Linked DNA regions of Homo sapiens: regions 1, 2, 3, 4 and 6 are each linked to region 5. The links come from fine-mapping of genetic effects on gene expression. A gene starts in region 5. Each other region holds a variant in brackets. All regions are shown on one strand. Distances are from middle to middle. Region 1 overlaps OOSP2 (oocyte secreted protein 2). Region 2 has its middle 4.6 kb from the start of MS4A3. Region 3 overlaps OOSP3 (oocyte secreted protein family member 3). Region 4 overlaps OOSP3 (oocyte secreted protein family member 3). Region 5 holds the start of TCN1 (transcobalamin 1). Region 6 holds the start of OOSP1 (oocyte secreted protein 1).

Region 1 (5,077 bases), 180 kb before region 5:
TATTCTTCCTGAAAAATATTAGAACATATTTATTGGAGGTTCTTATCAATTAGATCAAGTCATTGTCTTTGAAGACATATTTCTGAATCTTCTACACAGAACAGAAAGAACTTAAATGTATAATATGAATTACCTAATAGTTAATGTTAAATTAATCAGCCATACCCCTACTGAATACAAATATTTAGAAATACACATTCACTAATCAACTAATCAGGACCTTTACTGAAGTAGGGTTTTTAGAAACCAGAGACTTAAGGAGAGATATACACCAACTATATTTTTGCTATGAAAAAATGAAACTGTTTTCCTGCAAAATACATAACACCAGCTTCAAGTTTCCATTTCTCCTTTAGCTCAGAGCAAGTTTGGACTAGAAGATAATAATCCTAACTCTTCTGCTGTTGTCTGAAAGTCAGCAATAAAAGGACTAGGATCCAATTTTATTTCATTCTCAGTAGAAACTGGTGTAAGCCACACTGATTTCCTAAAGAAAAGGGAAACAGAAAGCAGATAGTGTTGGAGCACTTGGGATCAAGTCAGTTTTACCACTGTTTAATATCATGATCATATACAGAATAGTCATTCAGGAGTATGGCATAGAGCCAGCATACTATGCCTTCTAGATCCTCGTGGACTCTTGGTACAGGATTTGAGCAGATAGGCTTACAGAAGAACTAATTCCAGATAGTCTCCCCATGATTTCTGCATCAAACACTGAGTAGAAAGACGAATGGTCTTAGATAATTTGTGATGCTTGCATTAGAAGAGTACCAATGTACCCAGCAAAACAGACTCAGCCAAATGGATCCTAAGAACAGTAAGAAAAAGCCACCAAAAGCTTAATCTGTCCCACTGTAGTGGCAGCAAAGTTCTATATGTCAATGTGAGTAAGTGAATATGAGAGAGAGAGACTACAACATTAAAATTCATGCACCCAAAACCTAAACAGACAACTTTGTTGGCCAAGTCTTCATTTTTTTTTTAAGGAAAGTAGGCTTCAAGCAACATAGTAGTTACTATCAAAATAGGAATATCTATTTATCATGATTACTCTGGCAGCCTACGGAAAGGCAGTAGTTCTGAGGCATTAGATCAGAACTCTGTGTTGCTCCAAGCTTTGGGTAGTTCATAGAATTGAAAACATATGTATGTGTGTGAAAGGTAGACAGAGACAAAGAGATGGAGATGGAGAGAGACAGGGAGAAAGAGAGAGAGACAGAGAGAGAGAGAGAGACAGAGAAACCGAGAGAGAGGCAGAGCGAGAGACAGAGAGACCAGAGAGACAGAGAGACAGGCCAGAGAGACAGGGACAGACCAGAGAGACAGGGACAGAGACAGAGAGAGAGAGACAGACAGAGAGAGACAGACAAAGACAGAGAGACAGACAGACAGACAGAGACAGAGGCAAAGGCAGAGTGAGAGACAGAGGGACAGACCAGAGAGACAGGCCAGAGAAACAGGGACAGACCAGAAAGACAGGGACAGACAAGGACAGAGACAGAGATAGAGACAGAGAATCAAGGGGTGGTTTCTATTTAGAGTTCAGCTATGTTCCTGAATATCACTAAATCCCTCAGCCTTTATGAAAATAAGTTAAAGGGAAGAGTAAAAGTATTATGAAAATACTTTATGAAAATAAGTTAAAGGGAAGAGTAAAAGTATTAACAATGTGAATGGACTTAATGCCACTGAACTGTACACTTAAAATGGTATCTTAGATTATGTACATTTTACCAAAATTAAAAGATTTGTACATTTTCCCAAAATTAAAAAAGATTATATACATTTTAACAAATTTACAACTTGTACAAATGTACAAGATTATGTATATTTTACCAAAATTAAAAAAAAATTCTGCCTCTCCTTGAGAAAAAGTACTATAATCACATTAAGACATTGCACATTGGCTGAGCTCTAAATTCTTATTTTGATGTCAACTATTTTCACATATTAAGCAAGGATAAAAATTTTCCTGTGGTTTTGAGATAGTTTCCAAGGTTCTTCACTCAGATTTATAAGACTTAACATAAATATTTCAATGGCATGGCAAAAAAAAAAAAAGTGTATCAGGATACCTTTCCACTTAGTCTCAAAGTTCACACGAGGCTCTTGGGATTCAATATCTCAGTTCCACAAAATTGCAAGCAAAGTACATTTAATAATTAGGCTGATAAGCCCTCCCTTCATGTATTCTCCATGAGTTAGTATTAAATGAAGGACTGATTTTCTTATGTTTTTAGCCACTTACTCTTATAAGATGAAATTGAGCAATAAAATGTATCAGAA[T/GAAAT]ATTATAAAAGACAAAACATTGAAAGATAATATCAGTGCTTAATCCTATCACTTACTAAAGGTGACAGAGTATTTAATGACTCTGCTTTGTAGTTGAGTTATTATAAAATAACATAGTTACACTAGATTGTTAGGACCATTATAAATCTATATGTTTTTATTCTAAAATAAACATTACATTCAAAATATTAAAACATTTTAAAGTACTCATTAAAATATTTGTGTAAATACTAATTTGGGGTTTGTTTACAATTATACTTATGGGTGAATCATGTTATATTCTCTAAAGTCTATGCTTCTGCAGAAGCTTCTCATAAGCAAAGGTAAAGCTAAAACATTCCAAAGGAATCAAATCTGCTGGACTTACCTAGAGGTGGAACACTCCAAATGGATTTCCTGAGGGTCATGATCTATATTCCTTGGGGTAAAGTACAGCTCGGTTTGAAAAAGGAGAGTTTCCTCAGAAACTACCTAGGAGAGCATGAAGTTTCAGTGGAAGATATTTGGAGTAACAGATGAGGAATACACACACTTGAATAGGATGTAAAAAACATTCATGATCTCAAAAATGGCTACTGTCATTCTTAAATATAAATAAAGATATGACAACTCACTGGGACAGAAGAGGAGTGTTATCCCTAAGAGTGAATTTAAAATGCCTGGGGGCAAAACAATCTTAATTCATTGCAGCAAATTTAAACTGCCGCTTACAGCCATCTTTATGATTCATTAATGAAAAGGTTTCCAACAGTTCCTTTGAGAAAGGTGATTTGTAAGTCAAATAACGGAGAGTGGTTTAAAGCACAAGCTTCGGAGAGTATTCATCCTGGTTTGGTATCTAAACTACCACCAACAAGCAGTGCATCCCTGGAAAAGCTGGTAAAGCACCTTCTGAAGCTCCAAGTTCCCAATTTCTAAAATAAAATACTTTATTCAAAAATGATTGTTATTATCATTGGTCACTGGCCCAAAATATTTGTGTAGTGTGAATATAAATTGCTTAAATTTGGGAATCTGTGAGAAGATAATATCCCAGGATAACAACGCAATTTAGGATTTGTGCCTAGCTGAATGACAAGAGATTTCATTTCAATGAAAATCCACTATATATTTACACAAATCCTCATGGAACATGGATAGATTTCAAATGACCTAACATTGAACATGATGGAGCTTCCCAAGATTGGTGACCTTCCACATTAGAAGAATCACACAAAATTTAAAGCAGTCTGCTAATATTTAGTAAAATATAATAGTAGCCTAAGGGCAACTTAGAATCAGTTCCCTAGCCAATTTATAAATCTGTGATCTAAGGTCCTGTGCACACAGAATGACCCAATATTCAGTGAAAAATAATGATAAATTCCGTTGTCCCCTGCCCATAAATTACTACAATGAGAAGCAAACATTATTTTTTTAAAAGACAATTTTAATACTAGGCATAAAAGTCTGACAAAACATGCAGTATTTTTTACAAACAATCACTGTTCTTACCCTTGTCCTGATGCCACAATCACGAACAAGATATATAAACTCATATACATATGTATGTATCCGATTTGCAGGGCAGCCCATTCCCAGATGTAATTCATCCGCAAATATATACAGATTTCTGCTTTCTGCAACTGGGATAACTGAGACCATCAACCAGTCCAGAGAGCAACTTATTTTCACTGTGGAAAGAACCATATGAAAAGCATCAGAAGGGTGTCTATCTTAAGAAAGTGTTCAAAGAATAGTCAACTCTGCCCTCTGTGATAAATAAAAGGCATTTATTTCTCTGGCAAGGGTAACCATGGCTTAAAGGTTTTCTTACAAACATTATTAAAATTATTTTCCAAAATACCTAACTAATTATGCCCCCATGTAACTAGATTTCAGCAATTTCATGGAGGAGGTGGGAGGATCAACATGCAAGAATAAGAAAAAGCATAAATGGGCCGGGCGCAGTGGCTGACGCCTGTAATCCCAGCCTTTTGGGAGGCCGAGGCGGGCGCATTACAAGGTCAGGAGATCGAGACCGTCCTGGCTAACACAGTGAAACCCCGTCTCTACTAAAAATACAAAAAATTAGCCGGGTGTGGTGGCAAGCGCCTGTAGTCCCAGCTACTCGGGAGGCTGAGGCAGGAGAACGGCGAGAACCCAGGAGGCGGGGCTTGCAGTGAACCAAGATCGCGCCACTGCACTCCAGCCTGGGTGACAGAGAGAGACTCCAAAAAAGAAAAAAAAAATAAGAAAGAAAATGAAAAACCATAACCGTATAGCCCCTTAATATTTCCTAAATATTCCATGGAGGGGGATATATTTAGGACAAAACATAAGGGGCAGAAGTGAATTGCAATGTGTTAGAATAAAAGCGATATCATCCCAGTATACTTTTGGAAAGAGAAAGAGGAGAAAGGGTGGTTCTAGAACAGTAGAATTCTTGTCTAGAGCAGCCAGAACCAGAAACAATCTCAGCCATAAAAGGAAAAAGAGAGAGAAAGCCCTTTATTTGGGATGTTAGCTCCATGCACGTTTTGTTGTAAAACCCATCTTTATCCTCTATATTTAAATCGTCAGTAAGTCAATAATAATCATTATTTGCAATAGATTCATTTGGAGGAACTGAGTCTTTTCAGCATTAAAAGGTACATATTTAAATTATTAATGAGCAAGTGGCCACAGAGGACTCCACCACCACTGGAGCTTGGAAGTTCCGCCTTTAGAGAGAAATCATCAACAAGGTAAGACAATGCACATTTCAGAAAAGGTGTAGAGGCAAATGTCCTGCATTAGTGATCATAAC
Region 2 (5,077 bases), 190 kb before region 5:
CAAAGGAAGATTCACAAATAAAAATTTAATATACTTACCATGTACAACATGTTTTGACACATGTGTGCATTGTGAAGTCACTAACACAAAGCAGATAATCTACTGATCACATCAGATCACATAATCATCTTTTTTTTTTTTTGGTGGTGGTGGTGAGAACATTTAAGATCTCCTCTCTTAAACTTCAAGTACATAGTACAGTATTAACTTCAGTTATCATGCTGTTCATTAGATCTGCAGAACATATGTATCTGACTGTACCTCATTAAAGCTGAGGGGGGAACAGTAAAATAAATACATAAAAATTATTTTTATTTTTTATGTATTTATTTGAGACAGAGTCTCACTCTGTCACCAGGCTGGAGTGCAGTGGCGCGATCTCAGCTCACTGCAAGCTCCGCCTCCGGGTTCAAGCAATTCTCCTGCCTCAGACTCCCGAGTAGCTGGGACTACAGGCACACACCACAACGCCCAGCTAATTTTTGTATTTTCAGTAGAGATGGGGTTTCACCACGTTGGGCAGGATTGTCTCGATCTCTTGACCTCGTGATCCACCTGCCTCGGCCTCCCAAAGTGCTGGGATTACAGGCATGAGCCACCACGCCCGGCCCCCTATTTTTTCCATTTTTGTAAGTACCTAGTGTATATACTTATGAGGTACATGAGACATTTTGATACAGGCATGAAATGCATAATACTCACATCATGAAGAATGGGGTATCCATCCCCTTAAGCAGTTATCCATTGCATTGCAAACAATCCAATTACACTCTTTATCTTAAAAATGTACAGTTATTGACTACAGTCACCCTGTTTTGCTATCAAATAGTGGGTCTTATTTATTCTATTTTTTTGTACCCATTAACCATCCCCACCTCCCCTCCCAGGCCCCCACTACCCTTCCCAGCCTCTGGTAACCATCCTTCTACTTTCTGTCTTCATGAGTTCAATTGTTTTGGTTTTTAGATCCCACAAGTGAGAACATGTGATGTTTGTTTTTCTGTGCCTGGCTTATTGCACTTGACAGAATGATCTCCAGTTCCATTCATGTTGTTGCAAATGACTGGATCTTATTCTTTTTTATGGCTGATAAATAAAAATAAATAAATTAAAAAATTTTTTAAACAAATTAAAAAGGGAAAAATAGAAGATTCATAGACCTTTTTTCCACTTGCATGCAATATTTCCCAATGGCAAGGAGACATGATCAAGGAGAGACTGACTAGCTTTCAGTGCTGAAATACCTTAAAGAATAATCAAGTTCAAAACTCAAGTAGCAAATTTCCAAAAGGAAAAGGAAATCTTCGAGTGAATTCACCTATAGTCTAGCTATTCATTTACAAGTGCCCCATTTGACTAAAAAGCAATATATTTCTCAAGACTTGCTGGTCTTATCTACTTACTAAATATTATTGCTTGCACTGTCTGTTTTACCCCCCCATACACACTCATGCCCATGTGTGTACATATTAAAATCACATTCTTCATGAAGCAGTACCTTTATATATCTTAACACATGTATAAGCTCTTAAAACACTTAACCACCTAAGGTTTTTGACTTTGGGGTGCATTAAACGTGTTTAATTCATAATTTACCAGTTTATAATGTTGCAAAAGTCACAAGTTGAAATCACGTTGAAATGGCATTAGTTACTATAATTGTAAGATTAATAAAAGATTAAGACGGACAAGGATTGTTGTTCCAAGAGGTCTTGAAATAATGAGCCATCAAATAAAACCAACAATCAGAAACTACCTTTGATTCATTCTTGTTTTGACCTCATGCTGTGTTTTCAAATAAACGAGGAAAATGGACTAGAAATCCAATCTTAGCATTTGAATGAAGGCACTGTTGTTTTAGAGGTCCTAAGAAAACTGGAAGAATTTATCATGTCATTTATTGGTAAACATGGAAATAGCCTAGATAGAAAATGCTAATACAACAGTTCTACTTTCAACTACCTAGTGGAATCTTCTGGGAAGTTTATAAGACATTAAATCAGGATATTTGTCATGAACCCAACATGAAGGTGAACTTTTTTTTTTTTTTTTTT[TTG/G]AGACAGTCTTACTCTGTTGCCCAGGCTGGAGTGCCATGGCACAATCTCGGCTCACTGCAGCCTCTGCCTCCCAGGTTCAGGCGATTCTTGTGCCTCAGCCTCCTGAGTAGGTGGGATTACAGGGGCACACCACCATGCCCAGTTAATTTTTCTATTTTTTTTAGTAGAGACAGGGTTTCACCATGTTGACCAGGCTGGTCTTGAACTCCTGGCCTCAAGTAATCCACGCGCCTCAAACTCCCAAGGTGCTAGGATTACAGGCATGAGCCACTGCACTCAGCCCAACACAAACATTTTTTAAAGGTCCCAAGGTAACGCTAATGTGAAGCCAGATTGTAGAACTACTGGGTATGTCTAAAAGACCTTTATAACGAGATAGTTGGAAATAAGATAGGAAAAAACAAATGCATTTCTCTAAGAAAGATCACCTCTTCTACTAGGGTGGCCTATGTACTTTATTTTAGGGTGTAAAATTGTATCTTAGTTTGGAGTTAAACAGATTTCATTTTTGACAGCCATTTTAATGGGATTTCATCCTGATAAGTACATTTTCTATAGTGCAAGATGGGCTTCATGTGAAATATTACAGCTCTTTAATCTTCTTTTGCCTTGATTTGCATTCTCCTCACGAAAGGTAACCATTGAGTTCTACATGAACACATTCTTTTTTTTTTTTATGGCAAGAGAGACTTTATTTTTATTTTATTATTATTATACTTTAAGTTTTAGGGTACATGTGCACAATGTGCAGATTAGTTACATATGTATACATGTGCCATGCTGGTGTGCTGCACCCATTAACTCGTCATTTAGCATTAGGTATATCTCCTAATGCTATCCCTCCCCCCTCCCCCCACCCCACAACAGTCCCCAGAGTGTGAAGTTCCCCTTCCTGTGTCCATGTGTTCTCATTGTTCCATTCCCACCTATGAGTGAGAATATGCGGTGTTTGGTTTTTTGTTCTTGCAATAGTTTACTGAGAATGATGATTTCCAATTTCATCCATGTCCCTACAAAGGACATGAACTCATCATTTTTTATGGCTGCATAGTATTCCATGGTGTATATGTGCCACATTTTCTTAATCCAGTCTATCATTGTTGGACATTTGGGTTGGTTCCAAGTCTTTGCTATTGTGAATAGTGCCACAATAAACATACGTATGCATGTGTCTTTATAGCAGCATGATTTATAGTCCTTTGGGTATATACCCAGTAATGGGATGGCTGGGTCAAATGGTATTTCTAGTTCTAGATCCCTGAGGAATCGCCACACTGACTTCCACAATGGTTGAACTAGTTTACAGTCCCACCAACAGTGTAAAAGTGTTCCTATTTCTCCACATCCTCTCCAGCACCTGTTGTTTCCTGACTTTTTAATGATTGCCATTCTAACTGGTGTGAGATGGTATCTCATTGTGGTTTTGATTTGCATTTCTCTGATGGCCAGTGATGGTGAGCATTTTTTCATGTGTTTTTTGGCTGCATAAATGTCTTCTTTTAAGAAGTGTCTGTTCATGTCCTTCGCCCACTTTTTGACGGGTTTTTTTTTTCTTGTAAATTTGATATAACCAAAGACAAAAACCACATGATTATCTCAACAGATGCAGAAAAGGCCTTTGACAAAATTCAACAACCTTCATGCTAAAATCTCTCAATAAATTAGGTATTGATGGGACGTATCTCAAAATAATAAGAGCTATCTATGACATACCCACAGCCAATATCTTACTGAATGGGCAAAAATTGGAAGCATTCCCTTTGAAAACTGGCACAAGACAGGGATGCCCTCTCTCACCACTCCTATTCAACATAGTGTTGGAAGTTCTGGCCAGGGCAATCAGGCAGGAGAAGGACATAAAGGGTATTCAATTAGGAAAAGAGGAAGTCAAATTGTCCCTGTTTGCAGATGACATGATTGTATATCTAGAAAACCCTGTTGACTCAGCCCAAAATCTCCTTAAGCTGATAAGCAACTTCAGCAAAGTCTCAGGATACAAAATCAATGTACAAAAATCACAAGCATTCTTATACACCAATAACAGACAAACAGAGAGCCAAATCATGAGTGAACTCCCATTCACAATTGCTTCAAAGAGAATAAAATACCTAGGAATCCAACTTACAAGGGACGTGAAGGACCTCTTCAAGGAGAACTACAAACCACTGCTCAATGAAATAAAAGAGGATACAAACAAATGGAAGAACATTCCATGCTCATGGGTAGGAAGAATCAATATCGTGAAAATGGCCATACTGCCCAAGGTAATTTATAGATTCAATGCCATCCCCATCAAGTTATCAATGACTTTCTTCACAGAATTGGAAAAAACTACTTTAAAGTTCATATGGCACCAAAAAAGAGTTTGCATCACCAAGTCAATCCTAAGCCAAAAGAACAAAGCTGGAGGCATCATGCTACCTGACTTCAAACTATACTACAAGGCTACAGTAACCAAAACAGCATGGTACTGGTACCAAAACAGAGATATAGATCAATGGAACAGAACAGAGCCCTCAGAAATAACGCTGCATATCTACAACTATCTGATCTTTGACAAACCTGAGAAAAACAAGCAATGGGGAAAGGATTCCCTATTTAATAAATGGTGCTGGGGAAAGTGGCTAGCCATATGTAGAAAGCTGAAACTGGATCCCTTCCTTACACCTTATACAAAAATTAATTCAAGATGGATTAAAGACTTAAACGTTAGACCTAAAACCATAAAAACCCTAGAAGAAAACCTAGGCATTACCATTCAGGACATAGGCATGGGCAAGGACTTCATGACTAAAACACCAAAAGCAATGGCAACAAAAGCCAAAATTGACAAATGGGATCTCATTAAACTAAAGAGCTTCTGCACAGCAAAAGAAACTACCGTCAGAGTGAACAGGCAACCTACAAAATGGGAGAAAATTTTCACAACCTACTCATCTGACAAAGGGCTAATATCCAGAATCTACAATGAACTCAAACAAATTTACAAGAAAAAAACAAACAACCCCATCAAAAAGTGG
Region 3 (5,068 bases), 31 kb before region 5:
ATTTAAATAACTACATATGAATGAGGCTACTGTATTATTCAATCCAGAGTGTGTCATTTCCATTCAAGAAGGCTTGCTATGCATAAATATATTTTATGTTCTGATGCTTTCACTTTTGAAGTGCTCCCTTCAAAGGACATAAAAGAAATATTAAATAAAGAAGCTTTCAAAACGTTCCATTAGGCTATGATTCGAGGGGGAGATGAGTGGAAATGGCTATTGATAGTTATGTAACTGGAGATCTTTGTGGTAATGCATGAAAGTATAAATTAACTCCAGCAAACTCATTTTTCCCCGAAACTTTTGGTGTAAAACTATATATTATTATTATTTTGAGACAGGGTCTTGCCCTGTTGCCCAGGCTGGAGTGCAGTGGTGTGATCTTGACTCACTGCACGCTTAACCTCCCAGGCTCAAGCGATCCTTCCACCTCAGCCCACCTGCAAGGAGCTGGGACTACAGGTGCCTGCCACCACTCTTGGCAAATTTTTATATTTTTTGATGGAGACAGGGTTTCGCCATCTTGCCCAGGCTGGTCTCCAACTCCTGGGCCCCAGCGATCTGCCCACCTCGGCCTCCCGAAATGCTGGGATTACAGGTGTGAGTCACTGCACTCAGCCTTTTATTATTTTCAAAGTTTATTCTGCTTTTACTGAAATGCAACAAATATTTATTGAGCACCTGCTGTATTATTATATAGTCCATTCCTACCAGGCTGTTACAGCCATTGATGATTTTATTGAAAGATTCTCCCCAGGGCCTGAAAGCTTAGGGGGATGAGTAACTCCTCCCTCCTCAGGCCCAGTCCCAAGGCGCAAGGCCACTTGCACCAGCACTGTGCCTCAGCAAGATAGAAGAAGCAGGAAGTGAGCTGGCCAGAAGACATGTGCCCCCTGCAGATCGAGAGAGAGGCCATCCGGGTACCACGTAGCAGTTACGTCAGACTGGGACACTTCCTGTTTATAGGAAACTATAAAACCCCTGCCCCGTCTTCACTTAGGGCTGACACCATTTTACGCCTCAGCCCGTCTGCACCCAGGTGCTCATTAAAACAGCCTGTTGCTCCACACCGCCTTGTGGTGTTTGTTGGCACGTTCTCGGGTTTCGAACCAATACAAGAGCCTTGCACTTATCTCTTCCTTTGTGTATGTGTGTGTGTGTGCATGTGTGACACTGTTTATATATTTTTGGTTAGTTTGCTTGTGAAGCAGCTTGGAGAAGTCTCATCTACTTTTTACCGGTTGGTTTTTATAGAGTATCTCAGAAAGTGGACACAGAAATCGCAGATCTGCCATTAGTATTTCTTCTTTGAAGACACTGGAGATTCATTTTCTTGAGTGGCACTGCCATGCTCATTCAGTGAAAACTTGTGGGGCATAGAAATGGAACAGAGAGTTTCAAGCAGTTCTGCAGAAACTGTACTTTGGACTCCAGACTTCACTGTCCTTAGGCATGGAAACCATCACCTAGTTTGCATTCTTCATGACTGAGGTTGACTTAAAACAAAAATGATAGGAAAGCTTTCCTATGCTTCGGGTAGGAGACAAATTTACTTTTGTAGAATTTGTGGCTGAGAAAGGCAGGCAGGGCCGGATTGAAGAAGACATATGTCACCACTATTCACCAAGTTGTGGAACCCAAAGGTGACAGCCATGGAAATGTAGATCATCAGATCTGCTAAGTAGTCAGGGGAAGAAAACATTCAAACCAGTCTCCAAATGGGATTCTGTGGTTACAGTGAATGACCACTCCTGCTTTATTTACCCTGAGATTGCCGAGAATGACATGGCACTTATACTGATGGGCAGATGGCCAGATGAATATCATCATCCCGAGAATATGGAACCACCGCACTTGCATCAGTAGCTTTTTCCCTGTTACATAGGCATTCCTGCTATCCATTGGCACTTGGCTCAGCACAGATAGGCCGACAAGGACATAGTAGGCAAGTCCAAAACAGTATTGCACGATGTGAGTCGTGCCATTGGAGAAGACACTGACTTAGAAGCACTCTTCGTAAGCTGCGCAGCCACGGAAATACCAGCACTAAGAACGCAGACAGCGCCAGCTTCCCTCCCTGGAACTGTGCTGCCCTGAGAATTCTGAGCAAACCATAAAGCCAGCTTGGAAAAGATGCTGCCAGGAACAGAGATGGAGTAAGGCACCAAAGCAGGAAGCCATTCCACAGCACTGAGATGATATAGAAGTGGGAGAAGTAGGAAAAAATATCTCTTGGGGACATCAAAGGTGCGACAGGCGGCGGGGCGCGGAGGCCCCCCAACACTTGTTTTCCCAAAGCGGATCAGGTCCTGGAAGAATGCGCGGCCCAGGAGCAGGCCGAGCGGCAGAAGCTGCAACAGCAGGGTCAGCAGGAAGGCGGCGGCCGGCGTGAGCCACAGCAAGCGCAGCGGGTTCAGCGCCCAGAGCTCAGCTCTCCCTGAGGAAGCCATGGCTTAGGCGCCCGCGTTCCGCGCTGCCAGCGCCGCCACCGTCAGCCCGCGGAGTAGTGGCCACTGGCGCGTCGTGCGCCCATCTTAGCCATCTTAGAACTTTAAATCTTTTTTTTTTTTTAGAAGGAGTTTCACTCTTGTTGCCCAGGCTGGAGTGCAATGGCGCTATGTCGGCTCACCGCAACCTCCGCCTCCCGGGTTCAAGCGATTCTCCTGCCTCAGACTCCCAAGTAGCTGAGATTACAGGCATGCACCGCCACTCCCGGCTAATTTTGTATTTTTAGTAGAGGCGGGGTCTCTCCATGTTGATCGGACTGGTCTCTAATTCCCGATCTCAGGTGATCTGCCC[G/T]CCTTGGCCTCCCAAAGTGCTGGGATTACAAGCGTGAGCCATCACGCCTGGCAATCCTCCTTTCAAGAATGAAGCATCACAGCTCTGGGACAGTGATTAGGGTTATCACTCTCTGTCTGCCTTTACCACCGCTGGCTCCTATTCTGGACTTGGTGGGCTTTTGACTTTAAGGGACAATGGAAAAACAGAAATATTTTATGAATGAAAGTAATAAGTTCATTCCAAATGAATGCTATCTATGAAAGAGAGAGATTAAATACACAAACTCTATCCATTCTTGGTCCTAATTAATACAAAAATTCTTGCATGTCTTCATTGCTGAAATGGAAACTACCCACTTTTATCGCCATTTTCTGAGTTTTCCAGTTTGTTTTCATTCTTAAATTACCGGGGTTTTTTGAAGAAGGACACGAGGAGTCTGAATATACTGTTTATATTTAAAGGATGATGAAAATGTCTAGTAATGTTTTCAACAAAAGTAACAGGGATTCGTTCATTTCAAATGAATACTAGATATGAAAGAGAGAGAGGCAGGGAGGAAGAAAGGGAGAATGAATAAGTGAACTGTAACCAACTTTAGTCCTAATTAACACACAAATCCTTACTGGTCCCCTTACTAAAATAGAAAGCAGTAGCGCTGTTGGTGCAGCAAGCCTATGTGTGTTGCTTACCTGTTGTCTCACTACCACATGTGCCTCTCTCTGCCCTACAATGTTGGAGCCAAGAGTTCAAAAATTAGATTTTCAAGCCTCACCTTTAGGTTCTGCCAGCAGGAAACACTGATGGAGATTAAAAGATGTCTACCTTCACCCAGTTATTTGAAATAACAAGTATCTAGTCAATAAACCCTATTGCCTAAGGTTTCCCAATATGAAGAATAGAATCACACAGGCAGGACTTGAGGTTTTGTTAGAAACATCTCAAGATCCTCATGAGCATGTTTCAGAATGATGTTCTTACTAACTGGAGAGTGGTCATTGAAATAAAGAAGGATGGTCCTAAGGGATCACTAAAGGTTTAGTTCCTAGAGTGCCAAGAATAAAAACTAGTCTCACCCTATTGATCTTGAAGAAAGATACGGAAATATTCTGCTATCGCTGTTTCCCAAGGCCATGGGCCTAGAGGAGGTCAAACTTTCTACTCTATTTCCTGGTTGATCCAATGGTGCTCATTTCTATCATGGATACTAAATCTTTCTTAAAGGAATTAAACAACTATGTAGGATTATTCTCAGTCTACTGTATTTAAAACATGACTTGTACACTAACAGCAGGTGGAGGACAGAGACCCTTCCATGCCTACATCCCAGCCTAGGTTCTGTTTTGAGATTATAACCCAGTCATCAAGAAGTATAGCCAAAGGGACAGCACATTTTATTTGTAAGATCAACTCCACATACAAATTATACATAGACATTGTATTATAAGAGACTATGCAAGGGTATAATGGCCTATGTTTAAAAGGAGCACTTTTTAAAAACATATGAAGCACTGGGCTCTATCCCAACCCAATGTCCTCTCAGGAAGTGGCACCAAAAAGTGATAAATCTGTAGTGAGTGGTTCAAAAATTAAATTTTAAGTAAGCTGTAGCAACAGAGTTTTCAGGATTGCCATGGAAGAACCTAGAATATAGCTACATTTGCACTCTCATGGACTAATGGATGAGACATATTAAGTAGAAGTGACTGATGAGATGCCTCTACCTACAGAGAAAAAAGAAAGGTAGTTAATAAAAAGTTTCCAATGTAACCCCTTGATAAACTTGGCACAGTAAACACATTGACTAATATATTGACTAGTGAACACGGAGAACCTACTATGTGCCAGGGATTAGAGGGAAGGGTTGAAAGAGTTGAAAATTTTTATTCAAGTGTCTGAGCACTATTTAAAGTAAGTGGTTTATCAACTCAGATTATGTTTAAACTATACTAGAGATTTTCTTTTATTTGTCATAACTAGGGTAAAGGGAGACTTATTGACAAGACCAGGATATATGTAGACACATGGAAGTAGCATTTTTTCTAAACAGGATTGAAATGTAATGTGAGACCCATCATGTAGTTAAACACTATTTAAACAACAAATACCCTCCTTAGTAGAGATTTGAGCTTTTACTTCCTTATGTCAATACGATCATTTCTACATGGACACTGCCATGTTTTGTCTCTTCTAAGGATCCTCACCGAGGAGTTTTGAAAATATGGAATCCGAGTCAATCCAAATAAGCTAGCGTTGGTTAAGTTCCAGGGAGAATAAGAATTGGTAGCGG
Region 4 (5,077 bases), 21 kb before region 5:
AAATCCTTTTCGGACAAGCAAATGCTAAAGGATCTCATCACCAGAAGGCCTTCCTTGCAAGAGTTCCTGAAGGAAGCATTAAACATGGAAAGGAAAAACCATTATCAGCCACTACAAAAACACACTAAAGTACACAGACCAATGACACTATGAAGCAACTACATTAACAAGTCTGCAAATTAACCAGCCAGCATCATGATGACAGGACCAAATTCACACATAGCAATATCAACCTTAAATGTAAATGTGCTAAATGCCCCAATTAAAAGACACAGAATGGCAAGCTGGATAAAAAGACAAGATTCATTGGTGTGCTGTATTCAAGAGACACATCTCATATGCAAAGACACAAATAGGATAAAAATAAAGGGATGGAGGAAAATTTACCAAGCAAATGGAAAGCAGAAAAAAGCAGGAGTTGCAATCCTAGTTTCTGACAAAATAGAATTTAAACCAACAAAGGTCAAAAAAGACAAAGAAGGTCATTACATGGTAAAGGGTTCAATTCAACAAGAAAAGCTAACTATCCTAAATATATATGAACCCAACACAGGAGCACCCAGATTCATAAAATAAGTTCTTAAAGACCTACAAAGAGACTTAGACCCCCACACAATAGTGGGAGACTTTAATACCCCACTGTCAATATTAGATTGAGACATAAAATTAACAAAGATATTCAGGACTTGAACTCAGCTCTGGATCAAGTGGACCTGATAGATATCTACAGAACTCTACACCCCAAAACAACAGAACATACATTCTTCTCAGTGCCACATAACTTACTCTAAAATTCATCACATAATTGAAAGTAAAACACTCCTCAGCAAATGCAAAAGAACTGAAATATAACAGTCTCTCAGACCACAGCATAATCAAATTAGAACTCAAGATTAAGAAACCCACTCAAAACCACACAATTACATGGAAATTGAACAACCTGCTCCTGAATGACTTCTGGGTAAATAATGAAATTAAGGCAGAAATCAAGTTCTTTGAAACTAATGAGAACAAGAAGACAATGTATCAAAATCCCTGGGATGCAGCTAATGCAGTGTTAAGAGGGAAATTTATAGCACTAAAATGCTAACATCAAAAAGCTGAAAAGATTTCAAATTAACACCCTAACATCAAAACTAAAAAGAACTAGAGAAACAAGAGAAACCCCAGAGCTAGCAGAAGACAAGAAATAGCCAAGCTCAGAGAAGAACTGAAGGAAATAGAGACATGAAAAACCCTTCAAAAAAATCAATGAATCTAGGAGCTGCTTTTTTGGAAAAAAAAAAAATCAACAAAATAGGTAGACCACTAGCTAGACTAATAAAGAAGAAAATAGAGAAGATTCATATAAACACATTCAGAAATGATAAGGGGGATACCACCACTGACCCTACAGAAATACAACCAACCATCAGAGAATACTATAAACACCTCAAACTAGAAAATCTAGAAAAAAATGGATAAACTCCAGGACACGTACACTCTCCCAAGACTGAACCAGGAAGTTGAATCCCTGAATAGACCAATAACAAGTTCTGAAATTGAGGCAGTAACAAATAGCCTACCAACCAAACAAACAAAGAAGCCCAGGACCCGTTGGATTTACAGCTGAATTCTACCAGAGATACAAAGAGGAGCTGGTACCATTCCTTCTGAAACTATTCCCAACCATTGAAAATAAGGAACTTCTCTCTAACTCATGTTATGAGGCCAGCATCATTCTGATACCAAACCCTGACAGAGATACAACAAAAAAAGAAAACTTCAGGCCAATATCCCTGATGAATATCAATGCAAAAATCCTCAATAAAATACTGGCAAACTGAATCTAGCAACACATCAAAAAGCTTATACACCACAATCAAGTTGGCTTCATCCCCAGGATGCAAGGCTGGTTCAACATATGCAAATCAATAAACATAATTTGTCACATAAACAGAACTAAAGACAAAAACCACAGGATAATCTCAATAGATACAGAAAAGGCTTTGAGAAAATTCAACATCCCTTCATGTTAAAAACTCTCAATAAACTAGGTTTGAAAGAACATACCTCAAAACCATAAGAGCCATTTATGACAAACCCACAGCCAATATCAGAACGAAAGGGCAAAACCTGTAAACATTCCCCTTGAAAAATGGCACAGGACAAAGATGCCCTCTCTCAGTACTCTTATTCAACATAGCTGGAAGTTCTGGCCAGAGCAATCAGGCAAAAGAAAGAAAGAAATGGTATTCATATAAGAAGAGAGAAAGTCAAATTGTCTTTGTTTGCAGATGATGTGATCCTATATCTAGAAAACCCCATGGACTCAGCCAAAAGCTTCTTAAGCTGATAAACAACTTCAGGAAAACCTCAGGATACAAAATCAATGTGCAAAAATCACAAGCATTCCTATACACCAACAACAGACAAGCAGAGAGCCAAATTATAAATGAACTCCCATTCACAATTGCCACAAAGAGAATAAAATGCCTAGGAATACAGCTAACAAGGGAAGTGAAGGACTTCTTCAAGGAGAACTACAAATCACTGCTCAAGGAAACCAGAGAGGACACAAACAGATGAAAAAAACATTCCATGCTATTGGATAGGAAGAATCAATATCGTAAAAATGCCCAAACTGCCCAAAGCAATTTCTAGATTCAGTGCCATTCCCATTAAACTACCATTGACATTCTTGACAGAATTAGAAAAAAAAACTATTTTAAAAATCATATGGAACCGAAAAAGAGCTTGTACAGCCAGGACAATCCTAAACAAAAAGAACAAAGCTGGAGGCATCATGCTACAAAACCTCAAACTATACTGCAAGGCTACAGTAATCAAAACAGCATGGTACTGGTGCAAAAACAGACATATAAACCAATAAAACAAAATACAGAACTCAGAAATAAAACTGCACATCTACAACCATCTGATCTTTGACAAACCTGACAAAAACAAGCAATGGGGAAAGGATTTCCTAT[T/C]TAATAAATGGTGCTGGGAGAACTGGCTAGTCATATGCAGAAAATTGAAACTGGATCCCTTCCTTACACCTTACACAAAAACTAACTCAAGATGGATTAAAGACTTAAGTGTAAAACCCAAAACTATAGAAACCCTAGAAGAAAATCTAGGCAATACCATTCAGGTCATACACATGTGCAAAGATTTTATGATGACATTGCCAAAAAATTGCATCATAAGCAACAAAAGCAATTGCAACAAAAGCAAAAATTGACAAATGGGATCTAATTAAACTAAAGAGCTTCTGCACTGCAAAAGAAACTATCATCAGAGCAAACAGACAACCTACAGAATGGGAGAAAATTTTTGCAATCTATCCATCTGACAAAGGTCTAATATCCAGAATCTACAAGGAACTTAAGCAAGTTTACAAAAAAAAAAACAACAAAAAAAAAACCATTAAAAAGTGGGCAAAGGGGTGTGGTGGCTCATGCCTGTAATCCCAGCACTTTGGGAGGCCAAGGCACACGAATCACTTGAGGGCAGGAGTTCAAGACCAGCCTGGCCAACATTGTGAAACCCAGTCTCTACTAAAAATACAAAAAAAAATTAGCCGGGCATGGTGGCACACGCCTATACTCCCAGCTATTCGGGAGGCTGAGGCAGCAGAATCGCTTGAATCTGGGAGGCGGAGGTTGCAGTGAGCCAAGATCACACCACTGCACCCCAGCCTGGGTGACAGAGCAAGACTCCGTATCAAAAAAAAAAAAAAAAAGTGGGCAAATGACATGAACAGATACTTCTCAAAATAAGACATACATGTGGCCAAAAAACATAAAAGCTCAACATCACTGATCATTAGAGAAATGAAAATTAAAACCACAATGAGATACGTTCTCACACCAGTCAGAATGGTGATTATTAAAAAGTCAAGAAACAACAGATACTGGAGAGGTTGCAGAGAAATAGGAACTCTTTTACACTGTTGGTGGGAATGTAAATTAGTTCCACCATTGTGGAAGACAGTGTGGTGATTCCTCAAAGATTTACAACTGGAAATACCACTTGACCAAACAACCCCATTACTGGGTATATACTCAAAAGAATGTAAATCATTCTGTTACAAGGATACATGCATTTGATCAAACAATCCCTTTACTGGGTATATACCCAAAAGAATATAAATTCTATTACAAGGATTCACGCACGTGTATGTTCATTGCAGCACTATTCACAATAGCAAAGACATGGAATCAACCCAAATGCCCATCAATGATAGATTGGATAAAGAAAATGTGGTACATACATACCATGGAATACTATGCAGCCATAAAAAGGAATCAGATCATGTCCTTTGCAGGGACTTAGGTGAAGCTGGAAGCCATTATCCTCAGCAAGCTAACACAGGAACAGAAAACCAAACACTGCATGTTCTCACTTAAAGGTGGGAGCTGAATAATGAAAACACATGGACACAGAGAGGGGAATAACACACATAGGGGCTTGTCAGGGGAGGGTGGGGGAGTAGAGCATTAGGAAAAATAGTTAATGCATGCTGGGCTGGATACCTAGGTGATGGATTGATAGTTGCAGCAAACCACCATGGCACACATTTACCTATGTAACAAATCTGCACATCCAGCACATGTACCCCAGAACATAAAATAAAATTTTAAAAAATTAAAATAAATATTTTTTAAAAAAAGAAATAGAAGATGGCACATTATTCAACTCATTCTATGATGTATTGCCCTGATATTAAAACCAAAGACATCACAAAAAGAAACTATAGATCAATGTACCTTATGAATGTACGTAAAAAAACTTCCAACCCAAATGCCCATCAATGATAGATTGGATAAAGAAGATGTGGTACATATGCACCATGGAATAGTATGCAGCCATAAAAAGGAAGAAGATCATGTACTCTGCTGGGACATGGATGGAGTTGGAAGCCATTATCCTCCACAAACTACTGCAGGAACAGAAAATCAAATACTGCATGTTTTCACTTATAAGTGGGAGCTGAATGATGAGAACACATGGACACATGGGGGACAACAACACACACTGGGGACTGTCAGGGGGATGGGGAGGGAGAATAGCTAATGCATGCTGGGCTTCATAC
Region 5 (5,077 bases):
ACTAAAAAAAAATAGAAAAGTTAGCCGGTGTGGTGGCAGATACCTGTAATCCCAGCTACTCTGGAGGCTGAGGCAGGAAAATCACTTGGACCCGGGAGGTGGAGTTTCCAGTGAGCTGAGATTGCACCATTGCACTCCAGCTTGGGCGACAAGAGAGAAACTCTGTCTCAAAAACAAACAAACAAACAAACAAACAAACAAAAATATATATTATATAAAATATGTACTCCCATGTTCATTGCAGCATTATTCACAATATCAAAGACATAGAAACAACCTACATATCTGTTGATGGATGAAGGGATAAAAATTGTGATTTATATACACACACACATATATGTGTGTGTGTGTATATATATATTTATATTTATATAATAGAATAGTATTCAGCCATAAAAAAGAAGGAAATAGTGCCCTTTGAGACAGCATGGATGAACCTGAAGAATATCATGCTAAATGAAATAAGTCACAGACAAATACTATGATCTCATTTATATGTAGATTCTAAAAATTATCAAATACATGGAAACAGAGAGTAGAATGGTGGTTTCCACATAAGTTTTATATAAATATGTGAGAGAGAGAAAGAGATTTATTCCAAGGAGTTGATTCATGCCCTTATGGAGGCTAAGAAGTCCCACAGTCTACTGTCTGCATGCAGTAAAAGTCAGTGGAGTGATTCAGGCCAAACTGAAAGCCCAAGAACCAGGGGAGCCGATGGTGTAAATCTCAGTTTGAGGGCTGGAGAAGATAAGATGTCCTAGCTCAAACAGGCTGGCAGGAAGCAAAAAAAGGGTGAATTCCCCCTTCCTTCACCATTTTATTCTATTCAGGGTCTCAATAGATTGATTGATGCACACCTACATTGGAGACGGCATTCTACTTTCCAGAGTCCACCAATTAAAATGCTAATCCTATCTGGAAACACCCTCACAGATACATCGAGAAATAGTGTTTAATCTGGGCACTCAGGTGCCAGTCAAGTTGACACAGAAAATTAACCATCACAGAGGTACAATGCAAATAGTGGCTCATTAAGTCATGACATCCTTAGCTAGGCTGACAGTATTCTCTAATAGTTCTCAGAAGAACTGTGATAGGCAACACTTCTCACATGTAGCAACTGCCCTGGCAGGGCAGAAATTCACATTTGATGTATAGCTCTCTGGTTTTCCTCCTTGGTTAGGAAACTCTCATGGAATCTATCTTAGGAGAAAAATCATAGTTTGGAAACCACTATGCCAAAGATCCCCTCATGTGCTGGGTTCTCCAATACTGCCTGCTTCAATTTCAGACTTACAACTTTTACTTCCGTTTTTAAATTTTTTTATTTCAATTTTTGTAGGTACATAGTAGGTGTATATATTTATGGGGCTCATGAAATGTTTTGATACAGGCATGCAATGCGTAATAATCACATCATAGAGAAGGGGGTATTCATCCTGTCAAGCATTTATCCTTTACGTTACAAACAATCCAGTTATACTATTAGTTATTTAAAATGTACAATTAAATTATTATTGACTATAGTCACCCTGTTATGCTACCAATAGTAGGTCTTATTCATTCTTTCCAATATTTTGTACCCATTAACCCTCCGCATCTCCTTCCCACCACTAGCCTTCCCAGCCCCCAGTAACCATCTTTTCATTCTCTATCTCTATGAATTCAATTGTTTTGATTTTTAGATCCCACAAATAAGTGAGAACATGCAATGTATGTCTTTCTGTGCCTGGCTTATTTCACTTAACATAATTATCTCCAGTTCCATCCATTTTGTCACAACTGACAGGATTTCATTCTTTTATATGGCTGAATAGTACTCCATTGTGTATATGTACATTTGCTGTGTTCATTTATCTGTTGATAGACACTTAGCTTGCTTCCAAATCTTGGTTATTGTAAACAGTGCTGCAACAAACATGGGAGTGCAGATATCTCTTCAATATACTGGTCTTCTTTCTTTTGGGTATATAGCCAGCAGTGGGATTGCTGGATCATATGGTAGCTCTATGTTTAGTTTTTTGAGGAAGCTCCAAACTGTTCTCCATAGTGATTGTACTAATTTACATTCCCACCAACAGTGTACAAGGCTTCCCTTTTCTCTACATCCGTGCCAGCATTTGTTATTGCCTGTGTTTTGAATAAAGCCATTTTTAGCTGAGATGAGAGGATATCTCATTGTAGCTTTGATTTCCATTTATCTGATGATCAATGATGTTAAGCACCTTTTCAAGCACTTTTTCATATGCCTGCTTCCCATTTGGATGTCTTCTTTTACTTCCATTTTTATATGTTGTATGTGTTTGCATGATCAAATCTACTTTATCAGGAAACATAAAACATAAAGTGAAACGGAAAAAAAAGGAAAGATTATAGGAAACAGTCATTTGCCTAATATATCTTCACTGCACGGAAGGCAAATAATAGATATGAAACCCGAAGGTTTAGGACAGGAGACAAAGGAAAGTTATTGCCTTATTCTCCCTAACCACATCCTTCAAGTCTTCTTCCTTATTTATTACATCACATGGACAAATACACTTGACCACACCTCCTGACATTGCTCAATATTTGCTTGAGTGAAAAGAGGCTGAGGCAACCTGAAGGAGGAGCTCTCATTACCTTCTGCCCATCACTTAATAAATAGCCAGCCAATTCATCAACATTCTGGTACACTGTTGGAGAGATGAGACAGTCACACCAGCTGCCCCTAGTGGGGCTCTTACTGTTTTCTTTTATTCCAAGCCAACTATGCGAGATTTGTGGTGAGTAAACTTTGAGCTAAAATTACTCTAGAGTGATAGTCTACTGAAAACTGTTGACAAGAGACTCTATGTAGAGTTACCTGAGAAAAGATCCCATTCCAGTTTCGTATGTGGTTGGACTCCATGAATGATGAAAAGGGTGGCAGGAGATGGTGAGGAAAGTCTCACAATGCATGTTGTTGTAAGAGGAATTATAGATTGTGTATTCACTTGCCTAACTGCTCTTTCTATGCTCAGATCCTCTCTAGCACAGCATCCCTACCAAGTAACTCCCTATTCATGTGACTTTTCAATGACAGAAAATTTATGCTCCCAGAAACTTTTCTAGATCATGGAAAGTTATCTTTTGGTCTTGATATGCAATCTTTTTTCCCTGAAATTCAATGCATGATTTTTGGGTTAACCCCTTGTAACTACATAGAAAAAAATAATAATCTCTTTCAAATAGTGATGACTGCTGTCTTGTCATGAGTGAGTTTAGATGTTCCAAGTTGCATGTCCACCTTCCTTCAACTCTTTCCCAGGACACATGGGATAAAGTTCCATCATCTCTTGCATGGGTGTTGACCCCAGAGATTGTGTGGTTCTGTAAAAGAACTTTAAAGTAAGAGAAGGGAAAACTAAATTCAGGTTTAGTTTGATCCCTTAGTTATTGAATGACCCAACATTTCTGAATTTCTTTAGCTTCATTCATAAATAAAGGATAATGAGGGGAGACTATTGAAGCAAATTATCTCATGAAGTCTGGTGCAGTTCTCAAGTGCATGAATTCTCTTTTGTGAGACTTTACTCTGAAATTGAGCTTCAAACCAGTCCAAAGATTACTAGGTGGTACTATCTGTGCTCTCTAACCAGTAAGAAGAGAACACCACAGAAGACAGGCTTGTATACATACAGGCTAAAGCATAGACTCTTCTGACTCTGATTTTTCTTCTTGGCTTGACATTTCCCCTGTTGGATCCTAAGAATAGGGAATGGCTATGTAGGTTTTAGCTTTCAATTCATTTTAAATAATAATGATAATAATTAAATTTATCTTTGAGACTCAAGGAAGCTGATTTGAGTTGTTGATCAGGAACTAAAAAGTCTGTTTCAGGGCCAGAAAATCTGCTGAGCTGGATGGTTCCACAAAATCTCAGAGAACTGACTCACAATTGTTCCATTGTGTCTGCAACAAACCATGACCTTTCTACAATCACTCTATTCAGATCTTCTTGACTCATTCTTTTAAAGTAAAGAAAACTGGGCAAGAGAAATTACATTTCCTTGATTCTCAAGTATAGTGATAAAAACTCCAGTTGAGCTGGAAATAATAGTATGTGCAGCATTTTACAGTTTATTCGGTGGTTTCTTGTCCAATATCTGTAAGGTAAGTGTTAACAGCCACAATTTTTAAATGAGAAAACTAAGAGTAAAACAAGTTACATAAGTTATTATCCACAGTCATAAGTTAAGGAGCACAAAATGTGGCCAAAATCTGAATCCAAACCTCATGTTCTTCTCACTCTCCCACTAATCCATTAGATAATCTGGAGATATGTAGGATTTGGGGCTACTCCTCAAGATTATGGAAAAATACATTGACAAAGTGTCCTGTGTTTAAATAAATAGTAAATCTTTTTATTCTCCTCTATTTCCTTGGGAGCTATGGATTTTCCTACTTCCACAGTATAATGTGACTTCCCTCCATCTCTGGAATTGGGGCATATTGTAGGCTAAAACTGGAGAGTTTTTTACAGGCTGCATAATGCTAAATAATGATCTCGATGCCCAGCCAGCTGGGTAATCAGACAATGAAGTTTTGGGGTCAATCACCAGTATAACACAGAATTATTACCTGCATTTTCTCAACATTAACCCAGTTGATTTAGAAGATGGAGAAGGAAAGAACTGAATCCAGGAAGTAGAAAGTCCTGCTTACTGAGAGTCAGAAGACATGTAGTCTAGTTTCAGCTCAGCCTCCAATTATGGAAGTTTCTTTAAGGACAATCTATCTAAGCTTCATATACAAAATTAGGGAATGATGCTAGATTTCCCAGGCAGGAGTCTGCCAGTACACAATGATAAGTCTGCACCAGTTGTTAAAATATTAAAACATTTTCATGTTGGTTGTTAAAGGAGTAATGTCTGGCATGGGGGTGGGTTCAAGACCCACCTTTGTATTATTCCACCAACACAGTCTGCAGCCACTGGATTGGTCTAGGTCTGTGCCATATCTGTTACTAAATATTTTTATATAACCCCTGCTGCAAGTCTTACTATTTTCTGAGTATGTGTTTCTTATTTCCTTCCTTCTCTGCCACAGAGGT
Region 6 (5,077 bases), 70 kb before region 5:
AGAGAAAGAAAGGAAGAAAGAAGGGAGGAGAGAAAGAAAGGAAAAGAGAAAGAGAAGCAGAAATAGAGGAAGAGAAACTGACAGCCCAAGTTTATACTCAGGGCTACCAATCATTCTGGTTTGCTCCGAACAGGAGGTTTTTGGGGCCGACGCAGGAAAAGTACTGGGAAAACCTGGACCACTGCTCACCTCACTTAGGGGGCACTGACTGCTCCCTCTGAAATGAAAAGGATCTATGAAGTATAAGGTAAAGAAAGGCTAAGCCTTATAAGGCTTTCTTCCTGTATGTGACACACCACAGAGTCCCAAGTTCCTACCACCACCCACTCCTCTGTTTTCCAGGCCACTCCACACTCTTTATATTAAACCCACTTCAAGTACTTGATCCCCAAGAATTGATATGGTCAGAATAAGATCAAAAGGAAAGGGGAGTTGGAGAAAGACAGTCTCAGGTTAGGGCACATTCCCTAGTCTCAGTGCCGGTATGCAAGAGAAAAACATGGTATCTCAAGATTGCACATCGAAAAGAGGCACCACCCCTCCATGTGTCCTTGGCTATTATTAAGATTCAACCAGACCACAACTGTAAAGAATCCAAAGCCACATCTTTCAGCTCTCTTTAAGAAACTTCTATTCCCCAAGTGATAAGTTATACCTGACCAGTCCCCAGCGCAGGTCCATATCAAGGAATGCAGATAAAAGAGCCCTTTGAACCCCAGAATGGTCTTCATTTGCCCAGATTGAAAACCAAACCTCACTCAGGAAACAGGAAGTTGGGGAGAATAGCCTTATATGCCAAAATGCCTGAAGCCACACATAGGTGTGGGTAATTAATTACAACTTTGGACAGCACACACGTGCCATAAATATAATTTTGTTTCATTTTCTAAGATGTTACACTTTTTACTCAAATGTCAAAAAACAAGAGCAAAGATAAAGCAAAATGTGCAATAGAAGTACAACAGAAGGCTTCACTTGTTTTAGAGTCCAAAGCATCAGATATAGTTATTTTTATGCACTAAGGTTTACTTTATTAAAACTTCCTAATATCCTATAACATCTGTCTCCACATCTGAACACGAAAGAAATAACTGGATGATAATTTACTTGTTCTGTGCATCTCAGAAGGCCAAGCCCTGAGAACATGGGAATTGAAAGATTTCATCTACTTTCACCTGTTTTCACCAACTAAACAGTGGTACTCAAACTTAATAGATATCAGAATCACCGGGAGAGCTTATTGAAGCACAGCTGAGTGTCATTTAGTTTTCTGATTCACTAAGACTGGGCTGGGACCTGAGAATTGATGTTTCTCACAAGTTCCCAGGCGATGCTCATACTGACCACCCAGGGACCACACTTTGAGAATCCCTGGTCTACAGGGTTTTGCCTTCAGAGTGCATGCTGTGTTGATGCCCATTAGCAGCGATGTTTGCTTCTCAAACTTTAAGGAGCATATACATCACTTGAGGCTCTCTTTACAATGCAGATTCTAATTCGGAATGTCTGGGGTGAAGGCTAAGATTCTGCATTTTAAGATTGCAGGGATGTTGCTCTGGAGACTACGTTGTGAGTAGCAATGCCTGTAAATGGTTACTCACATTTAGATTCCTTTCTTCAAAACAGAAGATGCCAACTTAAAAATGAGAAATTCAAAATCTCATTACCAAAACAAGCCTAAATGAATGTTTGGTTCAAATATATTCTGATTTTTTTCGCTAATAACCAGTTATTAGAGTTTAGCAACTGTGTCCTACGTTAATAGAACGTGGAAAGTAGGAGCTTACCAAAAACAAATAGAAAAGACTATATAAATGCATTTAACTATCCTTGATATTATCTGAATTTTATCATTAAATTTAGTCTGTTCTAAAAGTTCTAAAATGCCATTAAATGATGAGCTCTTCAAAGGTTGAGATCATTCCTCTGTATTTTTGTGTGTCCTAACTTTCACAAAATGGGTGCCCAATAAAAGATGGCAGGAGAAAGAAAAAAAATAGAATTAGTTAGCATTTGTTCCTTTTAAAAATTTTTGTTTGTTTTTGTTTTGTTTTTGTTTTTTTGAGATGGAGTTTAGCTCTTGTCACCCAGGCTAGAATGCAATGGCACGATCTCCGCTCCCCGCACTCTCTGCCTCCTGGGTTCTAGCGATTCTCCTGCTTAGACTCCCAAGCAGCTAGGATTACAGGCGCCCGCCACTATGGCCAGCTAATTTCTGTGTTTTTAGTAGAGATGTGGTTTCGCCAAGTTGGCCAGGCTGGTCTCGAACTCCTGACCTCAAGTGGTCTGCCTGCCTCGCCCTCCCAAAATGCTGGGATTACTGGTGTGAGCCACTGAGCATGGCCTCTTTTTAAGTTTTTGAAATGTTTACATTTCACTTGTGTTAAAGACACAAATATATTTTAATTTTAATAATTATGCTTTTTTAATTTAATGTGTATTGAGATTAAAGGTATATTAAAACATTTCAGATACATTGCTATCTAGATGGACAGTGCTAAGGTTCAGTCCAAATGAATGTCAAAACCTTGTCCACAGGTACCTAAGGATGCACAAGGCAATGTCTCTGACTTTCAGCCACCCAGTCTTAGCCTCGTGTATCTGACAATCTGCGAAACTACTATTGTTATCAAATCGTCAATAAACTAGTAAAGAATAGGTGGCTTGAATCTTAAAAATTACCTGGTTAAATCACTGGAAGAGCAATACTTTCAAGGTGAGGATGGAAGCATTGAAGAGGTGACAGGGTCTCTTCATAGAGACAGGGTTTTGCCATGTTGGCCAGAATGGTCTCAAACTCCTGACCTCAGGTGATCTGCCTGCCTCAGCCTCCCAAAGTGCTAAGATTATAGGCTTGAGCCACCAAGCCCA[G/T]ACTGCCATGTGTATATCCTTTTAAGGAAGTATCTATTCAAATATTTTATTCATTTTTATTGAGTTATTTCTCATCTTATTGAGTTGTACCTCATGACTTTTGTTTTGTATGGAAATGTCTTTTCAGAAGAGTCTTGGCTAGCTATCTTGAGTAAAGACTCTCATTCAGAATCTGATTATTTCCTCACAATTAGACTCGAACCTTTTTGGCAAGAATAAATGAAGTTAAAAATGTTATAATCTTAAGAACATTTCTATAGCTTTTCCGTTGTTTTAGAGCTCTTTATATATTAGGGAGATTATCCTTTTATCCGCGATATAAGATGCAAATATTTTCCTCCTAGGCAGTCATTTGTCTTTTGATTTTGCTTGTGGTATTTTTGCCTCAAAGTTTGTTTAATTTTTGCTTCAGATTCTATTTGGTCACATTTTACTTATTCCTTCTGGAATCTGAGTCATAATTACAACAGACTCGCTTACACCTATTTAATATAATAATTAATAGAAGCAGGCTAAATACACATTGAGCATTTTACTTCGACTGGAGTATGACCAGTACAGGGCTGGTAATTCACTATTAACTGTGTCATTTGTTTGTCTCTATCCAGTGGGATCCCCAGACACCTAACTAATTCAAATTAACTCTCAGCTAAATGGCTAGCAACACTAAAATATGGCAGTTATGTCCCCATTTACACATGTATTCAGACAGAAAAAAATAAGAAAGAATCCTCTCACTAGCTAAGGTGTCCAATGGTCTGGCCTACAGAAGTGTCTCCCTGACTAAGAGAAACAGGATACTTCAGTCTCACTCTCAATAAATCTCTGGACCGGGGCTCAACCAGCCTTCCCTTTCAGAGGCTGAAGATACTGAGTAATTCTCCTATACGCATCTGCATTCTCTTTTCTTGCCTTGGGTTTAGAGAATTACACTTCTATCTTGCCAAATTTTCTTTTTTTTACAAAAAGAATTATTTCCCTTAGAAAATTTTTAGGATATGTGACTAGTTATAGCAGAGGGTCCCAAACATTCACCTAGTTCTCTTAATGATACAGTAACTTTTGTTGTTTGTTTGCTTTTTATGGCATCCTTTCATGAAAAGAAATACATAACAGCTTCATTTATTATGTTGTTACATCAAAATAACTTCAGTATTTTTGTGCTGACAACTTAGTAGCCATTTGAAAACACATACATTGGAAGAAAATATTTTTATTTTATTCTTTAACCACAATTATGAATAATATGTGTATAACTGTTTGACGCTGCACAGCATCTCAGCTCTTGAAATCAGATTGGGCATCACCATCTTCATTCCTTATTCCACATGGATTTTTCCCACAGTAACTGCTTTGGCTATTCATCACAGCAACCACTAGATCCCAAGTTGCACAAAGTTGTGGACTAATAGAAAAGAATGTAGTGCCACCAAAGTGGAACTGTGGACTACCTTGAGCTGGTAATTTGCATCATGTCTGACAGTTGTCAAGTATCACTCACTGTCTCCCCGAAATTTTTAAAATATCCCCTGGTATCCCTGTGTGTTCACTGCAGTGCCTCTGGGGGATCTTCAGCACAGAGAATACAAACTGTGCTGATAAGATTAGTGTTTTTATAGAGAAATGTGACCTATTAATGACCTCTTTAATGGAACAGTAAATTCTCACAAACAGGTATTTTAGAATATTAATGAAAATAACTAAATGTGGTACACTTTGTTTTCTATTCTCTTCTCACAATTTATCAATTCGATTATTCAAAGATATCTATTAAGCAAATGATATGTCAGGGGCATGTCTCAAATAAATGAAAATTTATTTTCACACAAAAGCCTGTACACCAATATTCCTAGCAGTTGTATTCATAGTCGCAAAATACTGGAAACAATCTAGATGCCCTTTTTTTAAATGAATGGCTAAACGAACCATAGTAATCTATACCATGGGATACTATTTAGCAAGAAAAAGAACAAATTATTGCTTCATTGGAACATTCTGCATGAATCTCCATGGAATTATGCTGAGTGAAAACAGCCAATCCCAAAAGGTAATATGCTATACTATTCCATTTATATAACATCCTTGAAATGAAAAAGTGGAAACAGAGAGTAAATTAGTGGTTACCAGGGTTTACGAGGGGATGGGGACAGGAGGGAAGTAGATGTAGCTCTTAAAAGGTCATATTATGGATCACTGTGGTGATGGA

The links. PIP is the estimated chance that this variant, and not a neighbour inherited with it, causes the effect. A credible set is the group of variants that fine-mapping cannot tell apart.
Region 1: its variant is the best candidate, but not a certain one, in a credible set for the expression of TCN1 in whole blood (INTERVAL, PIP 0.50).
Region 2: its variant is the best candidate, but not a certain one, in a credible set for the expression of TCN1 in whole blood (INTERVAL, PIP 0.86).
Region 3: its variant is the best candidate, but not a certain one, in a credible set for the expression of TCN1 in whole blood (INTERVAL, PIP 0.65).
Region 4: its variant is the best candidate, but not a certain one, in a credible set for the expression of TCN1 in whole blood (INTERVAL, PIP 0.67).
Region 6: its variant is the best candidate, but not a certain one, in a credible set for the expression of TCN1 in whole blood (TOPMed, PIP 0.67).

The regions. Positions count from the first base shown.
Region 1 is chr11:60,042,354-60,047,430 of GRCh38, reverse strand. It overlaps OOSP2 (oocyte secreted protein 2), which reads right to left. Exons shown (of 4, transcript NM_173801.5): 2 at 3,784-3,962; 3 at 2,657-2,760; 4 at 1-487. The coding sequence ends at 358. Among named protein-coding and RNA genes, the nearest start is that of OOSP2, 4.5 kb to the right of the region's middle. The variant T/GAAAT (reference allele first, on the strand shown) is at 2,290.
Region 2 is chr11:60,049,533-60,054,609 of GRCh38, reverse strand. No RefSeq gene overlaps it. Among named protein-coding and RNA genes, the nearest start is that of MS4A3, 4.6 kb to the left of the region's middle. The variant TTG/G (reference allele first, on the strand shown) is at 2,055.
Region 3 is chr11:59,895,567-59,900,634 of GRCh38, reverse strand. It overlaps OOSP3 (oocyte secreted protein family member 3), which reads right to left. Exons shown (of 5, transcript NM_001395255.1): 4 at 4,983-5,068; 5 at 4,152-4,502. The coding sequence ends at 4,422. It also overlaps the pseudogene SRD5A3P1. Among named protein-coding and RNA genes, the nearest start is that of OOSP3, 19 kb to the right of the region's middle. The variant G/T (reference allele first, on the strand shown) is at 2,800.
Region 4 is chr11:59,885,439-59,890,515 of GRCh38, reverse strand. The region is part of intron 2 of OOSP3 (oocyte secreted protein family member 3); the gene reads right to left. Among named protein-coding and RNA genes, the nearest start is that of OOSP3, 9.2 kb to the right of the region's middle. The variant T/C (reference allele first, on the strand shown) is at 2,970.
Region 5 is chr11:59,864,083-59,869,159 of GRCh38, reverse strand. TCN1 (transcobalamin 1) reads left to right here and starts at 2,673. Exons shown (of 9, transcript NM_001062.4): 1 at 2,673-2,768; 2 at 5,074-5,077. The coding sequence starts at 2,690.
Region 6 is chr11:59,934,109-59,939,185 of GRCh38, reverse strand. OOSP1 (oocyte secreted protein 1) reads right to left here and starts at 754. Exons shown (of 5, transcript NM_001395276.1): 1 at 656-754. The coding sequence starts at 731. The variant G/T (reference allele first, on the strand shown) is at 2,872.